2 separate regions of the Homo sapiens genome follow, and region 2 is linked to region 1. Evidence: fine-mapped expression QTL. A gene starts in region 1. The other region holds a variant in brackets. All regions are shown on one strand. Distances are from middle to middle. Region 1 holds the start of ANKZF1 (ankyrin repeat and zinc finger peptidyl tRNA hydrolase 1). Region 2 holds the start of DNAJB2 (DnaJ heat shock protein family (Hsp40) member B2).

Region 1 (11,955 bases):
CTTCCACCCCATGCCCGGTCCCTCAACTCCCAGCTCCTGAAGTCCACTCTGCCCATCATCTCCCAGTCACCAGGAACACACCTCAGACTCAGATTGTAAGGACTGGATAGACGTAAAGAGGGCATTTTCAGGGAGCAGACCCCCTTGGGCGAGGCTAGCAGCTGCTCCATCCCGCTGAACCTGCTCCTTGAGGAAGCCTAGGAAGGCTGTGCTCTCACGTGGTGGCTGCCAGCCAGGGTTGGTGATGGCAAAGTGCATGAGTGACAACTCTGTCTTTCCATCCTCAGCTTGCTGGTACACTGAGGCCTCTGTCTGCCCAGCAGATAGCCACTGCACAAGGAAGAGCAGAGTAAGCAGGGCTGTTCTCTTCCAGGAGCCTTCCTGCACCTTTCCTGTTAGTGGGGAGGCCTTACCCTTGGAGAACGGAGACCACAGTATACTGTCAATCTTTCCCAGGGCACTGGTGCCCCCCCAGACCCAGGAGGGGCTGCACTGCATGCTGAGCCAGTTACTTGTGTTGTGCCTTTTTTTTTTTTTTTTTTGAGATGGAGTCTCGCTCTGTCGCCCAGGCTGGATTGCAGTGGCGTGATCTCGGCTCACTGCAAGCTCCGCCTCCCAGGTTCACGCCATTCTCCTGCCTCAGCCTCCCGAGTAGCTGGGACTACAGGCGCCCGCTACCACGCCTGGCTAATTTTTTTGTATTTTTAGTAGAGAAGGGGTTTCACCGTGTTAGCCAGGATGGTCTCGATCTCCTGACCTCGTGATCCACCCGCCTTGGCCTCCCAAAGTGCTGGGATTACAGACGTGAGCCACCGCGCCTGGCCGTGTTGTGCCTTTCTTAAGGGAGCTTGGCCAAGGGTGCGAATTAGGGCTGAAATCCAGCCCAGGCTCCCAAGCAGTGTGCCCCTGGTATAGGACTGCCTTTGTGTGACTCAGGAGAGGTGTCTTTTTGCGGTTTTCCCAAAGACACTGTATGTTCCAGCATCATCCCAGGCCACCTGGCTCCCTCCTCTCCCAGTACCTGGGGATGACCATGCTGGCGAACATCCATCTGAGCAAAGGAGCAGGTATCTCCCACACCAACGACCTCCACGGTGAAGTTTCGGAAGAAGTCTATAATCTCCAGGGCCCGTGGGCGCAGGCAGAAGATGAGGATGAGGGGTGTGACAATGGGGCTCAGCAACTCTTCCAAAATGAACACCTAAAAGGGCGGGACCAAGGTCACAAGCGAGCAGGAGGGAGCCCAGCCCTCACCACCGAGCTACCAGCCAGTCTCTAGCAGGCCCTAACTCCAACTCCACTCACTGCCTTGTACTGGAAGAGCTGGGCAAACTCGTCCCGGGTCTGCGAGCGGTGGGCATTACCCTGCCAGTGGTCAGGCATGTAGTGGATGTGAGCGAGGATCACGCGGAGCAGCTGCTCAGGGCAGAACACCATGTGCTGGTCCGGGATAAAGGACCTAGTGGGATCAGGATCATGGTGAGATGTATGCCTTTCCCAGGAATGCTAGCCGGCTTGCTCCCGCCTGTGGCCCTGGCCCACCTGCACACGGTCACGGTGACCCCCAGGAGTGTGACGGTGGTCAGCACATGTTCCACAGCCAACACATCTTCGTCATAAATGGTGAGGGCAATAAGCACAGCCAGGATGGAGCCAGCGAAGAAGGCTCCATTCTTGGCCAGCAGTGTCAAAAGAGGTGACAAGAAGCAATTCATGTACTTGGAGGCGGGCTTGTAGCCACGGTTGAGGCGGGACTGCAGCTCGTGCTCCAGCTCGTTGAAGTGGCGGAGGTAGCAGCGGCCATAGAGTGACCAGCAGCGTGCTCCCAGGGCCCCCGGCTCCCGCTTCAGCACCTCAGCATAGCTGAAGAAGGCATAGAGGATTTGCCATATGAGGATGAGGGGGCACAGCAGGAAGTTAGCGATGCCAATCCACAGGATGCGGTTGCTGAGGCGCTGGGCCAGCTCTAGCCGTTGCCCCCCACGTTTGTACTCGGCCTTGAGGCTCCATTCATTGAGAAACAGAGAGCCAGGTCCCCAGAAGAGGATCAGCTCAAAGTTGTACTTGAGACCACGGGTGAAGAAGACAGCTTCCCCGAGGCCAGGCAGGCGGAAGCGCAGAGGCAGGAGGGATTTGTTAACCAGTGCCACCATGTAGTTCTGGAAACGGAGGATGCGGTGGTAGATGTCCAGTTCTGTCAGCTCACGTTTGTGGATGCAGATCTGGTGCTCCTTCTGCGTCTGCACGATCCGGGCCTGCACTTCTTGCCACGTGCAATACGGAAGGGCAGACTGCGGGGTGGGGTGGGGAAGAGACAAGGTACGGAAGGTGGGGTTGTTGCCTCGACCCCTTTGCCCTATATTAGAAGTGAGATTCAGGGGTTGTGAGCTTAAGAGACAGTTCCTGATTTGTCAATGACAGATAAGGATAACTGATGCCCAGGAATACACCCACACCTCCCAATACGTCTTAGACTATGGGCTAACTGCCCAACTTCCCAGTCTTACCATAGGGATGCGCAGAGCGTGCAGGTAGAAGGAGTGGATCTCCCAGTAGCAGCAAATGTTATAGATGAACTTGATAAGCCGGTGGATCCAGAAGACACCAGCAATGACCAGGATGGTGATAAGGGAGCCATTTTCCTGAATCCTGGTGGGGAAAAAGAAGGGGAGGAGAGGTGGCCCTCGAGGAAGGAGTCTTGGCAGAGACGCTGCTATCCTGAAGTATTTTTGCTAGACCAAGCCTGAGTCAGTTCTGGAGTATGAGTTGCTGCCTCAGACTCCACTCTATTACCCACCTGCTAGCAGAACTCAAGGCTATGGTGTCCTCTTGACTTGCAGCCCTTACCTGGCACTACAGACTTGAGCAGGCAAAAAGGCGTCTGGCAGAGTGACCTTGACGGGTTCAGTAGGGTGAAGACTGTGGTTCACCATCTTGTTGGCAAATAGGATGTCATAGTCCACGCAGCTGACCAGGAAGGTAGTGAAGGCAACCACAAAGAGGAACTGCCTGGGGAGTTGGGAAGAAGGGGTGCAGTCTGAGAGCCAGAGAGGCTCCAGTGAAACCCAGTGGGAAGAGGAGAGTCTGGAGGTGGCAGAACAAGACTGGGAACTGGAAGGGCCTGGAGAACTCCCAGTGGGCCCTCTCTGCTCCTCAGCCCCACAGGACTGTCTCAGGCCCACTCTTTGCTCTTAGCCTCAGCTGCCACAGCTGCAGCCTACTTTCCTCACCTCATGGTAACCTCAGCCACCACTACTGGACTCTCGAAGGTTTCATCCTGTGGGTCTCTGATCTCCAGTCTCTGATTTCCTTTTGAGGTTGTAGTTAAAAGCCCTTGGGGGAGTTTTCTGATTGAGGGAGGGCTTCCTAACCCCTTCCCCTTCGGCAATGCTATATGGCTTCTCTCTCCCAGGAGGCTCTCTGCCTAGGAGCAGGCCATGGAACAGGCAAGGCAGAACAGAGGCTTTTCTCTGTGGCTGGCATCTCTGAGACCTCCTGACTGAACAATGTACGTTCCATTGGAGCGTTGAGATGATCAAGGTCAAGGCCTGCATTCTTTTTTTTTTTGAGAGAGTCTCACTCTGTCAGCCAGGCTGGAGTGCAGCGGCACAATCTCGGCTCACTGCAACCTCCACCTCCCAGGTTGAAGCGATTCTTGTGCCTCAGCCTCCCAAGTAGCTGGGATTACAGGCGTGTGCCACCACACCCAGCTAATTTTTGTATTTTTAGAGCCTCCTAAAGTGCTGGGATTACAGGTGTGAGCTGCCGTGCCCAACCAAGGCTTGGGTTCTTTTCATGGAAGAGATAAGGCTTGGAAAGCTTTTCTTGTAAGAAAGCTTGGCCGGGCGTGGTGGCTCATGCCTATAATCCCGGCACTTCGGGAGGTTGAGGCGGGCAGATAACCCGAGGTCAGGAGTTCGAGACCAGCCTGGCCAACTTGGTGAAATCCCATCTCTACTAAAAATACAAAAAAAATTAGCCGGGCATGGTGGCACATGCCTGTAGTCCCAGCTACTAAGGAGGCTGAGGCAGGAGAATCACTTGAACCTGGGAGGCAGAGGTTGCACCGAGCCAAGACCACTGCACTCCTGCCTGGGCGACAGAGTGAGACTCACTCCATCTCAAAAAAAAAGAAAGGTGAAGCTGTAAGTTTTGGTGCCACACCCAGTCCCTGAACTACAAAGGTTTACGGAGTTTTAGCCTAGGACTGAGTTGTACTGGCAGGTTGGGCCAAGTGTGAGTGCAAGGAGAGGAAAGACTAAGATGTATTCTTTCACCACATCATCTGTCCCTTCTTATACTTACATGAGCTCAAAGATCTCCCCGATGAGCATACATGTGAAGCCATTCTTCTGGTGCAGATTATAAACGTGTAATTGTTAAGAAAAAGTAGTCAGTAAAGAAAGCAGGTAAGAGCACAGACTTTGGTGTCAACACACTCAAGCTTAAGTCCTGGCTCTGTGACTTTCTAGCTGTGTGACTTTACCAAGTTACTTAACCTGTCTAAACTTTTGTCTGTCCATGGTGGTACATTAGGAATAAATAACACTTGTCTCATAGGAGTATTAGGTCTAAGATAATGCATGTAAAGCATTTAACACAGAGCTGACACAGAATGAGTCAAAAGACGTTACTTATTACGATTATTTACATCCCATCAAAAAGGAGGCTCGGCTGGGTGTGGTGGCTCACGCCTGTAATCCTAACACTTTGGGAGGGCAAGGCAGGTGGATCACTTGAGGTCAGGAGTTCGAGACCAGCCTTGCCACATGGTGAAACCCTGTCTCTATGAAAAATACAAAAAATAGCTGGGCATCGTGGCAGGTGCCTGTAATCCCAGCTACGTGGGAGACTGAGGCAGGAGAATCTCTTGAACCCAGGAGGTGGAGGTTGCAGTGTGTTGAGATCGCCCCTGGACTCTAGCAGCAACAGAGACAGACTCCATCTCAAACAAAAAAAAAAGGAGGCTCACCCTTAGAAAGGCTTCTACAAATTAACACCACAAAGTGGACACAGGCACACAGATCTTGGTAAATGTGGGCTATCATTACTTAACGATGATTTCACCAGCCTCTTTCAGCCTCAGGATGAGCTCCATTCCCGTTTCCAGGTATTAGAGTCAAACCTACCCCCACCTCCCACCAGAGCCCCGGCTTAGAGAGACATTAAAGGTCCCAGAGCTCCAACTCAGAAACACAAAGGATATTCGAGAGAAGAAGAGGTCAAGGTTTTCAATATGGTGCCAAGGTGCTGTGGGATAGGAACAGAGATGTCAGAGCCCTGGGAGAACACAAGCCCCTTGCTCTCTCCATGTTCTTCCATCAACTCTCCCTATGGCTGTCATATCCAAGAACTCACACTTGCTCCCCTCGGCGACGTGCACCAACAGGTCCTCCTCCCCTGGGGGTGAATCACTATAGGAGGCCTCTAGGCGCTGGTATTCAGTGTCAAACTGCGCCATCACCACCGCCCCCTGTCCACCTTGACCACCTGCCAATAAGGAGGAAGAAGAGACCCTGATTCAGTTCCAGCTGCTGCCCATGGGCTGCCCTGCCTACTGCCAAAAGGAGAAAGTACCCTTGGGCTTTGTCCACTACCAGCCTCCTTGGCTCAGAGGCAGAGGAGTAGTGACACAAGAAAGGCAGTAAGCTCAGGGCTGGGGGAGCCTTAACTCTGGCCAGTCTGGGTGTCTACTGCTGCTTTCCTGGCCCAAAGCCAGAATCTGTCCCTTTGTTGGGGGCTGTTTCATCTTCTATTTAACGGACAGAAGAGTCCCTCCCCCGCCCATCCTGGGAACCCTGGTCTCCCAAGAGACTAACAGTTTGGAAGCACTTCACAAACAAATGTTTGAGAAAAGCACATGGCCCTACCAGCTCCATGGACAGTATGTGCTCCTCTCCAGCCCTCGATGCTCTGCAGCTGCTGGAGGAGAAGATGTCAGGCCCCAGAGAGTGGGCAGTGGGGATAAAAAGGAACCCAACCCTCCCAGCCATCCACACCCCACCAAGAGGAGGCCAAGCATGGGGCAGGAAGGCTGCAGTGGGGAAGAAGCACCCTTCCAGCCCAGGACTACGAGCACTTCCTCTGGCTGTGCTAAACCGGGCCACTCTTCCAACTCCAGGGTCTCAAGAAGTAACTTAGGGACCCCATGGAGAATGAGTGGGTACAGACCTGAGGCCAGGGGCGCCTCTGGACTATTTCTCCATTGCCCTACCTTAGCCTCAGAAATGACATACTTCTCAGGGTCCACAAAACCTCAAGAGTCTTTCCTGAAGAGGACCTTTCTGGTCAACCCCTTCTCTTACTTCCCTAGCACCAAAGATCCAGCCGGTGAGCAAACCTTCTGGATGGGAAACCTTGACTGGGTCAGTGTAGACCCCCGATCCTAGGTGAATTTGTGGGTTCCCTAGGTCCTGTAAGCCAGGCATGGTCGAGGTGGTACTCACCTGTCCGTGCAGCCCCTGGGGGCCGTGGATCTTGGCCCAGCCTGGCCCCGGTGGGATTCCCTGGGCTAGTGAGAGCCCTGCCCCTCAGGGAAGTCACCACTCACAGGGTCAGTGTGGACCAGGGCCCGTGGAGCCCCGGCCGGCTGGGCCTGGGCTCAGGGGTTCCTGCGGATGTTGCAGGGATCGAGTCAGCCTTACAGCTGATAGCCCGGGTGGGTTGGCTTGCCTCCCCACACCCAGCCGCGGCGACCGTGGACCGGAGTCCACCTCGCCCCAGGGTCGCCCGGCCCCAGGCCAAGGGCTGGCAGCTCCCAACAGCGGACAACCTCGCGCGCGGCCCCGGCGCCCGCGCGCGCCCCCGTCTGCGCGCGCCAGCAATCAAAACATTCCGGCTGCGCGCCCCCGCCCCGCCGGCGGCGCCCCTTCCTCCGTTACCCGCCGCGAGCTCACTTAGGGCTCCGCAGGCACCCCTGGGCAAGGCCAGACACGGGGCCTGGGATTCCAATAACCGGTCTCACGTCTTACCTCAGGAACAGCGACCCGGGTGATTCCAGAGGCTCCGCCGGCTCCGCTCGGCTCGGCTCGGCTCGGCGCGACCCGCGGCGCTAGGCCGGGTGTCTGCCACTCACTGTCACCCGCAGCCAGGCTGGCCAATAAGCACGGGGGGCGGAGACACAACGGCCAATTCTCGGCTTCAGGGACGGGACTAAAGTCTCGAGGCGGGTCTTGGACAGTCAGCGGCCCAATAGTGTGCTCTACGTGGGGCGGGGCTCAGGTGCGGACGCCGCCGGTTGTCCTCTTCGCTGCTCCGTAGTGACGGGGATTGTTGTGTTGCAGAAATCCGGCAATCGACCTGAGGACTTGCGAGCCGCTCAGCTCCCGGGACGTTTGGTGCGTCTTCTAAGGGCGTGGGCGAGTTTACGCGGGCCAGTTGTTGCTGGTCGCATGGGTAACGAAGAAAGTTCGGCTAGGCAAGCTCAGTGATTTTTAACTCTGTTGGACTCGATTTGGGAGCCGAATGCCTATTTCATTCTTTTGTGGGCTGAGACTGGGGGTTTGAGAAAGTGGACGGGGGCCAAGGTATTCATCTCACAGTTGGTAGCAGGATGAGAGACGAGAAGTCTTGCGGTGCAGGAGAAACCAAGTCAGGCAGGCAGGAGACGCAGCAGTAGGATCTCGTTTGCAGGAGCCCTGTTTCTTACACGCTTTCTACTCCAGGAGCTGCTGCTAAATAATTTCTGCTCAGCCATGTCGCCGGCTCCAGATGCAGCCCCGGCTCCTGCGTCGATCTCCCTGTTTGACCTCAGCGCGGATGCTCCGGTCTTTCAGGGCCTGAGCCTGGTGAGCCACGCGCCTGGGGAGGCTCTGGCCCGGGCTCCGCGTACTTCCTGTTCAGGTATCCTGGAAGGTTTCGTGTGAAACGTGACAGGGCTCCTTACAGCGTATTGCCCGTTCAGGGAACACATTCTTATTGGTATTCCCGAGCTTAGGAGGCCAATTGATTTATCTTTCTGCTTGATTAAATTCACTTAATCTCTGGGTAATGTCCAGCACAGCCCTTGTTTTCAAACAAGTCTTTTTGCCATTGCATGTATCTCCTCACGTTAACACCATTCCCTTCAAAAACACTTTAAACTTTGTAGAGATAAAATTCTCAGATGTATTCCACATTTAACCAGGCCCCACTCAAATTATTCCTTTTTGCTGAATATGAAACAATTTATTATTTGTTTCGTATAGCTTTATTTTTTGAGAGTCTCGCTCTGTCGCCCAGGCTAAAGTGCAGTGGCACGATCTCCACCCACTGCAATCTCCGTCTCCCGGGTTCAAGTGATTCTCCTGCCTCAGCCTCCCGAGTAGCTGGGACTACAGGCCCGCACCACCATGCCCGGCTAATTATTGTATTTTTAGTAGAGACGGGGTTTCACCATGTTGGCCAGGCTGGTCTCAAACTCCTGGCCTCAAGTGATCCGCCTGGGTCAGCCTCCCAAAGTGCTGAGATTACAGGCATGAGCCACCGTGTCGGTCCTGTTTTGTGTAACTTTAGTTTGGCTACATCTTTTCTTGCACCTCTCCTTAGACAAACTGTACACTAATTGGAAATGTAAACTTTAAAAAGCATTTGGGAAGTAGTTTTTGTGCAGTGAAAAATAATTTTAAACTGAACAGAAATTATTTTCTTTAGGATTCACCTAAACAATCTGTTTGGCTAATTTAAATTAGACAAGACTCAAACTCAGCCAGTGGGGAGGACTTGCAGACGCTGGATCTCGGGAGAGGGCTACGTTGGAGAAGTTTAACCGACCCCAAGGCTTTTACCCTCATCGGATTCTTTTCCAGAATGCCCAGGGCCAGTTTTTATTTACATTCGTTTTATTTATTTTATTTTTCTTCATCTTTTTTGAGACAGAGTCTCGTTCTGTTGCCCAGGCTGGAGTGCAGTGGTGTGATCTCGGCTCACTGCAAGCTCCGCCTCCCCGGTTCATGCCGTTCTCCTGCCTCAGCCTCCCAAGTAGCTGGGACTACAGGCATCCGCCACCACACCCGGTTAATTTTTTGTATTTTTAGTAGAGACGGGGTTTCACCGTGTTAGCCAGGATGGTCTTGATCTCCTGACTTCATGATCCGTCTGCCTTGGCCTCCCAAAGTGCTGGGATTACAAGCGTGAGCCGCTGCACCTGGCCAATTTTATTTTATTTACATTCATTTTACGTACATGTTTTCAGAAGCATGTTTATTGCATTAAGTGATTGCTGTACTGTTTATTTCATGACTATTAGAGTGTAAATTCCTTGAAGGCAGTATCATGCCATCTCTTTTGTATCCTCCTCTGCTTTGTATATCACACTCTGAATATAATTCTTGTCACTGTGGATTTGGGCTCCCTTTCTATGTCCAATTCCTCTTCCCTTATTTAGGCTCAGGGGAGAGAGAAAGCCCAGAAAGAAAGCTACTCCAGGGTCCTATGGATATTTCAGAGAAGTTATTTTGTTCAACTTGTGACCAGACCTTCCAGAACCACCAAGAACAGGTAATAGGTCAGGTGCAGAGCTAGATGTTAGAAGCAAAAGTGTAATGGTGGGTGGGGAGAGGTAGACATTTGATTTGTCTTAATAAAGGTCCATGCTTTGACTGAGGCAGTTGGTGTTACCTGGTTGTACTTCCTAGAATACTATAACTGGTCTTGGCCAGTACAAGGCCAGGCTGGGGCATATTTCCACCTTTATCTCACTCTTTGTCTTTGTACTAGAGGGAACATTATAAGCTTGACTGGCATCGGTTTAACCTAAAGCAACGTCTCAAGGACAAGCCTCTCCTGTCTGCCCTGGACTTTGAAAAGCAGAGCTCCACAGGTGATGAGTGGTAGGGGGACCTATGTAGGAGTAGGACATGGAGGTATAAGAAAGCACTAGTTTAGAGTTTGAGGAAAGAACAAAAATGGGGTACCAAACTTGTGTATCTCATATTGTCTGTCTTCAGGAGATCTTTCCAGCATCTCGGGATCAGAAGACTCAGACTCAGCCAGTGAGGAGGACTTGCAGACACTGGATCGGGAGAGGGCTACATTTGAGAAGTTGAGCCGACCCCCAGGCTTTTACCCTCATCGAGTTCTTTTCCAGAATGCCCAGGGCCAGTTTCTTTATGCCTACCGCTGTGTCCTAGGCCCTCATCAGGCAAGTGACAGTACAGGTTGCATGGCTAACCCCAGCCTTTTGTACACCCAGCCTAGATTTCCCTTAGCCTAGTGCATTTCTCCCTGCTTCTCTTCCTTCCTGTTGGTTGTGGGTATCACGCTTGACAACATAGTCTTGAATTGAAACTGGCCTGAATTGTGGAAGGGTTAAGTGTAATGGAATTAAGTTTGGAAACAAACCAATTTAGGTTTGAATTGTGATTCTACCACTTCATCTTGACTGCCTCGCCAAGCCTCAAATTTCCTTGTTTGTCAAATGGAAACAAGCCTCAGGGTGGTAATATTAAATGAGATAATGTTTGTGAAAATTGGCCCTTAGTTTCTTGCTCTCAGTGAATGCAACAGATATGTTTCTGATGCTTCTCTGTCATCAAGGATCCCCCAGAAGAGGCAGAACTGCTGCTACAGAACCTGCAAAGTAGAGGTCCCAGAGACTGCGTGGTGCTCATGGCTGCAGCTGGGCACTTTGCTGGTGCTATATTTCAAGGGTGAGAGGGTGCTGCATGGGGGTAAGGATGGAGTGGATCCTGTTAGCCAGGGAGCACCAGCTGGTCTCCAGTACTGAGTCTGTGCTGTCTACAGAAGAGAAGTGGTGACACACAAAACTTTTCACCGCTATACGGTTCGGGCCAAGCGGGGCACAGCCCAGGGGCTTCGGGATGCCCGAGGTGGGCCATCACACTCTGCTGGAGCCAACCTGAGGCGCTACAATGAAGCCACACTATATAAGGTGAGTTAAGCCTTTTAGATCTGGTGGTACTGATCCATACTTTTTTTGCATCTCTGTTCAACTCACTGTTAAGTAGGGAGGTTTTTGACTCATATCCTTCCAATTTTCATTATAGGTAGACAAAGGTAGATGAGGGATTCCCCAGGAGCCTTAGTCCTCTATTCTTTCTCCGTGTTATCCTCTACTTTCCACCCCTTGCACTTCTGTGGGCCATTTTTTTTAGTTGGAGATTTATAAATAGCAAGTGAAGGTATGCAGGACTGAGTTACTCTCTTCTCTAGGATGTTCGTGACCTGCTGGCAGGGCCAAGCTGGGCTAAGGCGCTGGAGGAGGCTGGTACAATACTGTTGCGTGCTCCCCGCTCTGGCCGGTCTTTGTTCTTTGGAGGCAAGGGAGCACCCCTGCAAAGGGGGGATCCCCGACTTTGGGATATCCCCCTCGCCACCCGCAGACCCACCTTCCAAGAGCTACAGCGTGTGCTCCATAAGCTGACCACTTTGCATGTCTATGGTGAGCCTTTGCTCCAGATCCCAATTCCCTAGACCTTCCTGTTCTCTCCAACCTAAGCCTCCATTCTCATTGGTATATCCAGAGGATTTTCTAAGCCTTGGACTGCAGCCCAGCTACATCTGCATTGAGAGAAACCTGCGCTAGCTTCTCCTCAGCTAAGGTTGAGAAAGATCTTTTCTTTTATGGCAGAAGAAGACCCTCGGGAAGCAGTCAGACTGCACTCACCTCAGACACACTGGAAAACAGTAAGAGAGGAGAGAAAGAAGCCTACTGAGGAAGAAATAAGAAAGATCTGCAGGGATGAAAAGGAAGCGCTGGGGCAGAATGAGGAATCTCCCAAACAGGGTTTGATTACTATCTGGCAACTGTCAGATCTGAGTTTCTGTCCTAAAAATGCACTGGCAAATTCCCTACTCTCATAACTGACCCATTTCCTTATTTAAACACACACCCACAGTGTCTATCTTAGCAATTACTGAGACATGTTTAGTGACCTTTCCAAATCTATTATCTCTTTTGTTATGGATGTTTCCCCAGAGCTAAGAAAATCTTTGTGTGGAGCAGATGCGTGGATG
Region 2 (11,955 bases), 48 kb after region 1:
ACAGGCACATACCGCCAGATCTTCCATCCAGAGCAGCTCATCACAGGCAAGGAAGATGCTGCCAATAACTATGCCTGGGGCCACTACACCATTGGGAAGGAGTTCATCGACCTGCTACTGGACCGGATTCGGAAGCTGGTGAGGAAAGGACTGAGGGCTGGGGCAGGGGGAATGAATCTGGATTCCTGTTGTGAGGTAGTCTGGACACCAGATTGGGGAAGGACAGCTTCAGCCTCTGGGAGAAACACACAGGATCAGGACCAATGAGGAGAGGCCCTGCACTCTGATCGGGGGGCCAACTGTAGGTTCCAGCCTGGAGCTGGTGTCCCCTGTATCTCCGAAGTGGCTGGCCTGATGCTAGGCAGGGTGTCCATTAAGGCAAACATGTTGATGGGCTGCCTGGCCAAGCTGTGGGGTTCCATAAGCGTTCCCAGAATACCACCTTGTGTTACAAGGATGTGGGCAGAAGTCCCTGTGAAAGGCAGGGATTCAAAGAATGTCAGCCCAAAGCCTCTGTGATTGGCTTTGGCTTCTACGAAGGATGGGGATGAGGTTCCTGGATTGTTGTTCTTAGTAGAGAAACCCTCTAGAAACATCCAAAGTTAAATCAGCGGGGCATGGGTGTGATGGTGGGTGGAGTTGGCAAGTTATGACGACAAGATGAGGGAGCCCTGGAGTCCTGTGCACTGGTCAGCCTAGACAGCCAACTCCACCCACCATCATACCCCTCTTTTCCAGCATACAACAGAGCTCTGTGTTAAGGGCCTCAGGAGATTTCAGAGGAAGAGGGACAGGGAGGAGAAAGGGTGGGCCCTGGACCCACTCTATGAGGATCTCTTTTGTGCTCTTGGAAAAGTCTTCCAAGGAGTTCATGAAACTTTTGGGAATTTAAAACAGCACAAGTTGGTTCTTTCCTGTCCATCAGCTGTGCTCCATGCCCCACATTTCCCCTCCCCTTCCCTGTCTAGGCTGACCAGTGCACAGGACTTCAGGGCTTCCTGGTGTTCCACAGCCTTGGTCGGGGCACTGGCTCTGACGTCACCTCATTCCTGATGGAGTGGCTTTCTGTTAACTATGGCAAGAAATCCAAGCTGGGATTCTCCATCTACCCAGCCCCCCAGGTGTCTACAGCCATGGTCCAGCCCTACAACTCTATCCTGACCACCCACACCACCCTGGAGCACTCAGACTGTGCCTTCATGGTGGACAACAAAGCAATCTATGACATCTGCCACTGCAACCTAGACATCGAGCGCCCAACCTACACCAACCTCAATCGCCTCATTAGCCAAATTGTCTCCTCCATCACAGCTTCTCTGCGCTTTGACGGGGCCCTCAATGTGGACCTGACAGAGTTCCAGACCAACCTGGTGTCCTACCTCACATCCACTTCCCCCTGGCCACCTATGCACCAGTCATCTCTGCAGAAAAGGTATACCACGAGCAGCTGTTGGTGGCAGAGATTACCAATGCCTGCTTTGAGCCTGCCAACCAGATGGTGAAGTGTGATCCCCGGCACGGCAAGTACATGGCCTGCTGCCTGCTATACCATGGAGATGTGGTGCCCAAGGATGTCAACGCTGCCATTGCTGCCATCAAGACCAAGTGCAGCATTCAGTTTGTGGACTGGTGCCCCACAGGCTTTAAGGTTGATATCAATCACCAGCCTCCCACTGTGGTGCCTGGGAGTGACCTGGTAAAGTGCAACGTGCCATGTGCATGCTGAGCAACATGACAGCCATCACTATGGCCTGGGCCCGCCTGGACCACAAGTTTGACCTGATGTATGCCAAGAGGGCGTTTGGGCACTGATATGTGGGTGAGGGCATGGAGGAGGGTGAGTTCTCCAAGGCCCATGAGGATATGACTGCCCTGGAGAAGGATTACAAGGAGGTGGGCATGGATAGTGTGGAGTGGGGGGAAGAAAAGATAGGGGGGATGAATACTAGGGGAATACTGTGTGTCTGTCCTACATAAAGTGCTGTGGCCTTATTGTCTCACGAATGTCTTTTTCTCTGGGGGAAAACCATGGGGGGAGGGCTTCTTCTCCATGAGAGATAGGAACGCTGGTGTCTTAGCCTCTATTCCCCAGAAAGCAGATCTGATTTTAGATTTCATTATAGAGTGCAATTACAGCAAATAGAATGGGGGCCAAGGGAAGTAAGGCACAGAAGGAGGAAAAATTCACCCTAGAGAAAATGCAGCTGAATAAATGGCATCTCAGAACCATCCTTGGGTGAGTGGGCAGGTGAGGGCTGGGGGTGGGGTTTATGCACTGGCTCTATTCTTCCACTAGTTAAACTTTTGCCCCATCAAGCATTAATTCCCCTGCACTGGTGGATTGCACACACTTGGGCTGTAGAGTCATCAGGAAACCCTGGGCGAGGAGGAGGTGCTATTAAGTTGCACATATGTGAAGTCAGTGGAACCCCACATGGAGCTGCAACAAGAGCCCGGTGAGGCCAGGAGGATCCGAAGTGATCCTTAAAGTAATCTAGTGCCCACTAGCCCATCCTGCGATCTGGAGGCTTGTCTTCTCCAGGCAGGAGGTTGGGGTAATAGAGAGCCCTGACACTGGAGTTGGTTGAGGCAGAAGAGTGGTGCAGTGGCTGCCACACAGGGAGAATGGCTTGTAAGGGTAGGAGGCTTACCTCCCAGTAATCTCTGTCAACACTCACCACTTTTTTTTTTTTTTTTTTGATGGAGTTTTGCTCTTGTTGTCCAGGCTGGAGTGCAATGGCACGATCTCGGCTCACTGCAACCCCCGCCTCCTGGGTTCAAGCTATTCTCCTGCCTCAGCCTCCCAAGTAGCTGAGATTACAGGCATGCACCACCAGGCCTGGCTAATTTTATGTTTTTAGTCGAGACAGGGTTTCACCATGTTGGTCAGGCTGGTCTCCAACTCCTGACCTTGGGTGATCCACCAGCCTCAGCCTCCCAAAGTGCTGGGATTACAGGGGTGAGTTACCATGCCCAGCCCTGACACTCACCACTTTTTGATAAAGACAGTTGACCTTTTAACAGTCCTGTGGCATCATGCACACACAGCTTCCCACCCCCACTTCCAAACAAATGGCAAATTTTAAATCCTGAGACTGAGTGAGGCAGGAGAATCGCTTGAGACCAGGAGGCAGAATTTGCAGTGAGCTGAGATAGTGCCACTGTACTCCAGCCTAGGTGACAGAGCCAGACTCCATCTCAAAAAAATAAACATAAATAAATAAAAAAATACAATACAATAATATTTTTGTAAGGACAGGATCTCACCATGTTGCCCTGGCTGGTCTCGAACTCCTGGGCTCAAGTAATTCTCCCACCTTGGCCTCCCAAAGTGTTGAGATTACAAGCATGAGCCACCATGCCTTGCTAAAAGGGCTGACTTTTAAATCTCCATATATTTGACTTATGCGTCTTTCCATCAACTGGTTTCAAACTTGGGAAGGGAAAAGGTGTTACTCTGGGAGCCCTTCACACCCCAAGAAATAGCCATCATTTAGTGAGCATCTACTATGTGCTAGGTCCTGTATCCATAAGATCTTGTTTAATTCTGAGGTTAATACAGTTATTACACCCACTGGAACAGAAGCTCTCAGACAGGCCTTGGACTGTTTTTCATTGTTCTACTCTCAACACCCCAGTGTTGCCCGGCATATTAGATGATTAACACTTGTTGGATGAACTTGTTCAATGAACACCTATTTTATAGATGTGGAGACTGAGACTCAAAGACTCGCCCAAGGTGGTAAATGGAGGAGTTGGGATTCAAACCCAGGTTAGCCTGCACCAAATCATATGTTGCTCCCCCACCTTTTTCTTAGGTGCCCTCACTTCCTGCTCACAGTGGTTCCAGGCAGCCCTCCAGACACCACCTCTTCTCAGCCTGCCAGGTCCCGAGTGCCCAGACAGTGACTCAGGTGCCTCAGGGGCAGGGAGTGGGTGACGCTTCACAATGCCCTGCCCAGGCTCTGGGAAGGAGGGCATCGATGTAGAGGGGAGAGTCCCAGCTTCTGGGTCTGAATGGGGGTAGAGGCTTCTTTGGGGCCAGATTTTGGGGCTATCAGTGCCCTTTGGAAAACATCCCCCAACATCTCCTAGGAGGTGGTGAGGGCCTGGGAGAGGCCAGGATTGGGGGTGGGGAGGGAGGTGAGCTCTTCACCTGCCAAGACGGCTAGGGATCGAGAGAGGCAGCTCGTCTCCCTTCCTGTCTGCTGAACCAGCCAGCCCACCCTGGGCAGCTATATAGCCATCTCCCTGAGGTCTTCCTGCTAGTAATACTCTGCTGGCAGGCCCTGGCAGGCCTGGGTTGGACTGGGTATGGCTGTGGAGAGGTGGCAACCCAGACCTCCTGAGGCAGCTAGGAGCACCACCCAGCCTGGCTCCTGGGGACTCCCTCAGTGCAGGGGAAATGCTTTCATCCCTGATGATTCTGAGCCAAAGTACAATTGCCTCCTTCAGGCAGACAAAAGAGACAGGTTTCCAAGCTCAGATTCTACCCAACAAATTTATTCCCTGGGCTCTGATGTGTCAGGAACACGCCTGGCTTCAAAGCTGTGTTGTCACCATTCTCTCCTTCTGGAACGCCACCTCCCCCTGCTTGTCTCAATGTTGCCATTCCTTCCAGCTTAGGTCACAGCCATCCAGAACCTACCCAGCCCCAGGGAGCTCTCCCTCTTCTGAATTCTTTCAGCACCTACCTCGGTCTCTATTTTTCATTTGGCACTTGGTGTGGGCTGCCTTGTATGATATCACTTGGCTTCTTGTCAATGTCTTATTTCCCCAACTCAATTTTTAACAATTAGTATGAATTTGAACAGTTATTAGGTGCATATGCTTCAGAATTCAAAAAGTATCAGAGAGATTTAGGAACAAGAAAAATAAGTCTCTTTCATTTTGTTCCCCTCTTGGCAGCCACCACTGTTAATGTTTTTGTTAGTGTTTCCTTCCAGAGATGTCTACATATATATAGGTTGAATATCCCTTATCGGAAATGCTTGGGAACAGAAGTGTTTAGGATTTCAGATTTTTTCAGATTTTGAAATATTCGCATATACATAATGAAATATCTTGGGGCTGAAACCCAAGTCTAAATACGAAATTTACTTATGTTTCATATACACCTGATACACATTGCATGAAGGGAATGTTGTATAATGTTTTAAATAATTTTTTTGTTTTGTTTTGTTTTGTTTTGTTTTTTGAGATGGAGTTTCACTATTGTTGCCCAGGCTGGAGTGCAATAGCGTGATCTTGGCTTACTGCACCTCCACCTTCCAAGTTCAAGTGATTCTCCTGCCTCAGCCTCCCAGGTAGCTGGGATTACACGTGCCTACCACCATGCCAGCTAATTTTTGTATTTTTAGTAGAGACAGGGTTTCACCATGTTGGCCAGGCTGGTCTCAAACTCCTGACCTCAGGTGATCCTCCAGACTTCAGGTGATCCTCCCGCCTCGGCCTCCCAAAGTGCTGGGATTATAGGCCTGAGCCATTGAGCCCAGCCTATGTTTTAAATAATTTTGTGCATGAAACAGTTTGTGTATATAAGGTCAGGTATGGAATTTTCCACTTGTGGCATCATGTCAGGTACTCAAAAAGTTTTGAATTTTTGAACATTTCACATTTTGGGTTTTTGGAGTAGGGATGCTCCATCTGTACTACCATGCTTGTATGCACATTTAGTATACACTTTGTTCTACACCTTGTTTTTTCAGTTAATAATAAATCTGGAAGATGGTCCATATGAATACTGTTAGCTATGCCTCATTCTATTTGGTCACAATATAATATTCCATCGTATAGCATACCAACACTTGTTTTACCAGTCTGCTATTAACGGGTATTTAGATTGTTTCCAATCTTTTGCTATTAAAAAGAATGCTGCAACCCTTGTATGTATTTTTTTTGCACATATATATGACCATACATTCTTAGAATTGAGATTTCTGGGTCAAAGATTATGCATTTTAAATCTTGCTCTCTTTAAAAGTCACACCAGGCCGGGCACGGCGGCTCACGCCTGCAATCCCAGCTACTTGGGAGGCTGAGGCAGGAGAACTGCTTGAACCCGGGAGGCAGAGGTTGCCGTGAGCCAAGATTGCACCATTGCACTCCAGCCTGGGCAATAAGAGTGAAACTCTGCCTCAAAAAAAAAAAAAAAAAAAAAGTCACATCAAATTACCCACCCTCCCACTACCAATCTATAAGAATGCCTGTGCCCTCAGCCTTGCCCATACAATGTATTCAACTTTTTTCTTTTTTTTGTCTTTGTCAATCATCCAATAAGTGAAACAAAGTATTTTGTTAGGGCCATGTGCCCGGGTGCAGTGGCTCTGGCCTATAGTCCCAGCACTTTGGGAGGCTGAGGCAGGAGGATCATCTGAGGCCAGGAGTTTGAGACCAGTCTGGCCAACATGGTGAAACCCCATCTCTACAAAAAATACAAAAATTAGCCAGGGGTGGTGGCACATGCCTGTAATCCCAGCTACTTGGGAGGCTGAGGCAGGGGAATTGCTTGAACCTGGGAGGTTGCAGTGAGCCAAGATAGTGCCACTGCACTGGAGCCTGGATGACAGAGCAAGACTCCATCTCAAAAAACAAAACCCCAAAGTATTTTGTTGTAGCTTTATTATTATTATTCTTTTAAAAATTATTATTATTTGAGATGGAGTTTCACTCTTGTTGCCCAGGCTGGAGTGCAATGGCACGATCTTGGCTCACTGCAACCTCCGCCTCCCGGGTTCAAGTGATTTTCCCGTCTCAGCCTGCCGAGTAGCTGGGATTACAGGCATGTGCCACCACGCCTGGCTACTTTTTGTATTTTTGGTAGAGACAGGGTTTCACCATATTGGCCAGGCTGATCTGAAACTCCTGACCTCAGGTGATCTACCCGCCTTGGCCTCCCAAAGTGCTGGGATTACAGGCATGAGCCACCATGCCTGGCCTGTCGTAGCTTTAGTTTACAGTTTTTTTGTGAATGAGATTGAGCATCTTTTCATTTGTTTAAAAGCCAGTATTTCCTCTTCTGTGAGCTGCCTGTCCCTTTGTCCATTTAAAAATGTCATTGTCTTTCATTAGTTGGCATTTCTTTGTGGACAAAGGAAATTAAACCTTTGTCTGCTAGATGTGCTCCATATAATTTCCCTCAGTTGTCATTTGTCTATGTCCTATCCCCTTGAGCACAGAGATTGGAATTTAAACTTTTTTATATTCTTTTTCTTAATATAACAAGACATACACGGTAGGTGCTAGACAAATGTCTGTTGGCACAGCAGAGTAAGAAGAAAAAGGCAGAGATCTGGAAAATTTGGAGTGACTTAACCCAACCACTCCTTCCTCTTATACCAAGTCTAACCCTTAGTCTTTGTGTCAGTCAGGACTCTTATAAACAGCAGAAGCTAACTGGCAAATTGTTTCAAGTCCCCTGCCCCCAACAATTATAGAGATATCGGATAGCACACAGAATCAATGCAAGGGCCAGCAAACAAGGGTCAGCAATCAGACAGGCACCTAGGGAAGCTGGGCAGCCAGTACCACAGTCAAGGTTGGGCACAGGACAGCCTGTGTAGGAGACTCCTGTCCCCTCCACCCTCCGCAGTGATCCTCCTACTCTCGTCCCTCACCTGCGGCAGTAGCGCTGACACTTCCTCCTCCAGACACTAGAGGCCGCTGTTGGCCCCATCGCCTCCACCGCCGCCGCAGAAATGAATTCCTAAACCAGCCTTGCTATTCCGTGACTTGCTCCAGATTCAAAGTCCCAGTTGGAGCATCCGATTGGCGGAGCTCATGTCTTCTGCCTGCAACCCCAGAGCCGAGTCAGGGAGAGCAAGCATTGGGGCTTTGTGGCAAATGGTGGCCTGCTTTCCATTAGGGCCCTTGCGATGGGAATTCCCCAAATGTAGGCAGGAGGTTCTGATGGTGGGCAGCCAGGAAACCAGGACACTCACACCACCTTCTTCTCTCACGTCCG[C/T]CTCAAACCCTTCTCGTTGGCGAAGTATTCCTGGGTCCCCCAGCCTAAAGCACTTTTCTGGACTCACATAACCATTATTGCTTGAGCCAATCACGATGCCAGCAGGACCGCAGTAACACCTAATTCGTACCATGTCTCATTTGACTTTCAAACAACCCTAGGCACTACCTATATTTAGTGAGAAAAAAAGAGTGCTCAGAGATTTTCCCAAGTCTCACAGTAATGCCAGGTTGTACTCTGTTTCCAAAGCCTCGGGTTTCCCAGCGGGCTACACTGATGGGCTGGTATCTTATCAAGTTCAAGCTCTGCAAAGGCAGGGCTTGGGCCACATTCTTCTTTATACGGCCTGGCAGCATCTTGAATGCAGAAAAATGCTCAGCTAACGCCTTTGGATTGGCCTGGATGGGATCAAGCAGGAGCCAGTTCTGGAAGGTTTCCTAACTCTCCAATGAGGCCTGAACCCAGGGAGCATTTTGAAGTGGAATAGGCCTACTCAGGATCAGTTTGGGAAGACTTGAACCTGGGGAATTCCGTTGTACGGCCCCCTTTACCTCACCTCCCCCAAATGTGTCAAAACTGTCAACAAGAGGTTTGCAGGTGTTCATTATTTATTCATCCCACGGGTAGTTTTGAACCCCTACGACTGCTCTAATAGACCAGTGAGAAAAAACACACAATTCCTGTCCTGTGAAATCGACATTCTAGTGGGGGAGGTGAATGGTAATAAAAAATAATCAAACCAATAAATGCTAATTTGTGGCTCTAACAAGCCTGATGAAGGAAATGCCACGAGATGCTGTAAAAGGCAGTTCTGACCTACTCAGGAAAGCCAGGGCAGCCTGCTGGGGGACCTGGGGCTGGAGCTGGGAGCTGAAGAAGGGGGAGGAGTTAGAACCGTGGTGGGGGGAGGGAGGGAAGAGTCTGAGTCCTCGAGGTGGGTGAGTAAGCATGGATCATCGCTCATGTTTATAAGAAAGTGACAGAGGAACCTGGGGGCCGAGCGGCTTGTTTGTGGGCTGCCCCAGCCTCCGTGCGAGCGCTTCTCGCTTGGATGGAGGCGGGGCCGCAGTCTCCCAGGTCCCAGCTGGGGCTGACGTCGTCCTGGTGTGTGCCCAAAATAGCCGGCTCCGCCCTCTTCTCCCGGCAGCCCCTGCAGGCCCCCACCCCCCCAGGGGACAGGCGGAGCCGGCCTTCTCCCCGTCTCTAGTAGTTTCCGCACCGCTGACGCATGCCTGCGCGCACAGCTGGGCCGGGCGCGTCCTACGCAGCAGCCGCGAGCCGGGCTGCGGGTGCCAGACGGTTCCCGGCGGGGGGCAGGGGCGGGGCGCCGCAGGAGGCCGGGACTCCTGGCGGAGGAGGTGCGGCCGGGGGCCCGGGTCAGGCTGGGGGCCCTGGATCGGACTGCTGGAGTTGGGGGGCCCCGATAGGGCTCCTGGGCCTGGGCGTCGAGATAGCTCTTGGCCCCGGCCTGCGGGGGCAGATAAGGCTGCCGGAGGGAGCCTAGTCACCGGCCGCAAGCAGAGCCCGGTGTGCTCCGCTTCCAACTGGGAGCGCCTTCCGCCACCCGGGGAGGGGGACTGCTGCAGCCACAGGGTGGGGCTCTTGGTTCTTTCCGCCTGACTCCTTCTCTTCTGCAGCCCCAAGGAGGCCCGCCTGACGACTGACCAGTTGCCATGGCATCCTACTACGAGATCCTAGACGTGCCGCGAAGTGCGTCCGCTGATGACATCAAGAAGGCGTAAGTGCCTCCGTATGCAACAGAAGACCTCTCACCCTCCACCCGCCACCACCATGGGGCACTTCAGAGTGACACCTGTAGGTGTCTGAGGGAACCAGGTCGTTAGAAAGCACTGGGGTGCTTCTTCCGAGTGACACCTGCAGGGAGGAAAGAGACCCCTGGTAGAGTACAAGGAGAACGTCCAGAGAGTGAAGTAGTTAGTTCCTCTGGGAGCTGCACTGTGTTATGGGTTGTTCTCCAGTTGATCTTCCCCTCCTCCTCCTCCTCCTCCTCCTTTCCCCTCCCCTCCCCCTTCCCCCTAGATTTGGGCATTCTCAGGCTGCAGTGCAAAGATGCAGTGCAAAGAGGCTCTATGAGGAGGAGGGGCCGGTGTCCCTGTACTCTTCGAGGCCACATGTGCCCCAACCTTTGCAGCCCCAGTCCAGTGAGCCCTAGGGAGGGGCTAGGGACCCTGGCATTGTATCCGCTTGTACATGTGGTCCCAGCACTGGTGGCGGAGGAGAGAGGGTGGAACTTGATGAAAATATCACAGCAGCGGCAGCCCTAGCAGCTGGGGTGGACTGGGACCCGGGGGTGAAAGGACAGTGATAGGCTAATGGGAAAACAGGTCGTTCGGTTCCTGGGTGGGAAGTGCCTGCATTTGTCCCCCGACTCTCTCCTCTGCACCCACTTTCTGCAGGTATCGGCGCAAGGCTCTCCAGTGGCACCCAGACAAAAACCCAGATAATAAAGAGTTTGCTGAGAAGAAATTTAAGGAGGTGGCCGAGGCATATGAAGTGCTGTCTGACAGTAAGGGCCGGGGTCAGGCAGGACCCAGCACATCACCCCCTACTTCATGCCCCAGCTCACATTTTCTTAAAGCAATGTCTCTGCCACCTAGTTTCCTCTGTGCCTTTTTCCAGCCTGACATTTAAGCTCCCCCCTCCCACAGGGACAGCTCAGTGTCTGCTCCCCAGAGTCTGGTAGGAGTGGCTGGCATGAGACCTGAAAGGGGAAGGAAGCAGGGCAGGTAACTCATGTGAGCTGAGCCTCCTGCGTGCCAGGCATTGGTGGGTGTCATCTCCATGAGTTCTCACAGCCGTCCTATGAGGCAGGTTCTATCACCCCTATTTTACAGGCAAGGAAACTGAGGCTGAGAGAGGTGAAGTAACTTGCTCAAGGCCACGCAGAGCTGGAATATGAATCCAGGTCTGCCTTTTTATTGATTCATTCGAAAAGTAATTCAGTGAATGGTGACAGTGTCCGGCACTCGCTGGGTGCTGGGGAAACTGGAGGACAAGCAGGCACTGTCTTTGCCCAGAGGGGCAGGGAAGACCAACACCTACCAGGCACACACACAGACACAGTTACAGCTTGTGAAGAGTATTCCGAGGGAAGAAACAGGGCAGGTGGAGTGCTAGGGAATAATGTGCACTTGCTTTAGTTCTGGTGGTTGTAGAAGGCCTCTCCGAGAAGGTGACATTTAGGCTAAGCCCTGGTGAATAATAATGTAGTAATCATTAGCTAACATTTATTGAACACTTTCTATGTGTCAGGCACTGGTAGGCAGTTTACGTGGATGGTCTCATTTGATCTGTGCAACAACCCTGTGCGGTAGGTGTTGTGATGACAGCCATTTTCCAGATGAGAAGAGGCCAGCTGTGTGAAAGGCTGAGTTGCTGCCTAAACCTATAGCCCGTGTCCCCTGGGTCCCCTGCTGTGCCTGCTTTCCCCCGCCAAGTGTCAGAGTGTCAGTCTCTGGACAATCCTTTGAACGTCCTAGCCTGGGAGGGGAGCCCATCCCAGAGGGAGGGTGAAATGATCTGGTCTCTTTTTGCAGAGCACAAGCGGGAGATTTACGACCGCTATGGCCGGGAAGGGCTGACAGGGACAGGTAGGTGGAGTGGTGAGGCCCAGGAATGGAGGTGGGGCAGGGAGGAGAGGGGCAGGGCAGATTCTTGCAATGGAGGCTCTCTCAGGCTCCTGGCTGTGCCTTAGGTGAGGTCCCCCGCTCAGGGCAGGATGCATGCCCTAAGCTCTCTCCTCATCCTGCCTTTCCAGGAACTGGCCCATCTCGGGCAGAAGCTGGCAGTGGTGGGCCTGGCTTCACCTTCACCTTCCGCAGCCCCGAGGAGGTCTTCCGGGAATTCTTTGGGAGTGGAGACCCTTTTGCAGAGCTCTTTGGTGAGTGGACTCTGGAAGCCTCTGAATGGCTCAACTTCCCCCTCCAGGCCTGTCCTTCCATCAGCTGGGAGGCCCTGAGGTGGAAGGCTGA

What was found. PIP is the estimated chance that this variant, and not a neighbour inherited with it, causes the effect.
Region 2: its variant is fine-mapped to the expression of ANKZF1 in lung (TOPMed, PIP 0.98). The same link has a PIP of 0.9 or more in whole blood.

The regions. Positions count from the first base shown.
Region 1 is chr2:219,222,564-219,234,518 of GRCh38, forward strand. ANKZF1 (ankyrin repeat and zinc finger peptidyl tRNA hydrolase 1) reads left to right here and starts at 7,243. Exons shown (of 14, transcript NM_018089.3): 1 at 7,243-7,337; 2 at 7,665-7,842; 3 at 9,365-9,477; 4 at 9,697-9,799; 5 at 9,927-10,120; 6 at 10,516-10,628; 7 at 10,723-10,870; 8 at 11,152-11,380; 9 at 11,570-11,725. The coding sequence starts at 7,695. ATG9A (autophagy related 9A) reads right to left here and starts at 7,073. Exons shown (of 16, transcript NM_001077198.3): 1 at 6,972-7,073; 2 at 5,871-5,922; 3 at 5,359-5,490; 4 at 5,207-5,250; 5 at 4,306-4,370; 6 at 2,848-3,009; 7 at 2,508-2,649; 8 at 1,543-2,291; 9 at 1,306-1,459; 10 at 1,022-1,201; 11 at 82-330. The coding sequence starts at 5,461. RefSeq lists enhancers at 6,013-6,561, 6,562-7,109, 7,110-7,657, 7,328-7,437 and silencers at 6,788-6,837, 7,048-7,177.
Region 2 is chr2:219,270,198-219,282,152 of GRCh38, forward strand. It overlaps DNAJB2 (DnaJ heat shock protein family (Hsp40) member B2), which reads left to right and starts at 9,169. Exons shown (of 9, transcript NM_006736.6): 1 at 9,169-9,321; 2 at 9,601-9,701; 3 at 10,381-10,490; 4 at 11,521-11,574; 5 at 11,742-11,864. The coding sequence starts at 9,637. It overlaps TUBA4B (tubulin alpha 4b), which reads left to right. Exons shown (of 4, transcript NM_001355221.1): 3 at 5-138; 4 at 969-2,000. The coding sequence ends at 1,502. RefSeq lists an enhancer at 7,289-7,993 and silencers at 7,570-7,772, 9,014-9,493. The variant C/T (reference allele first, on the strand shown) is at 7,964.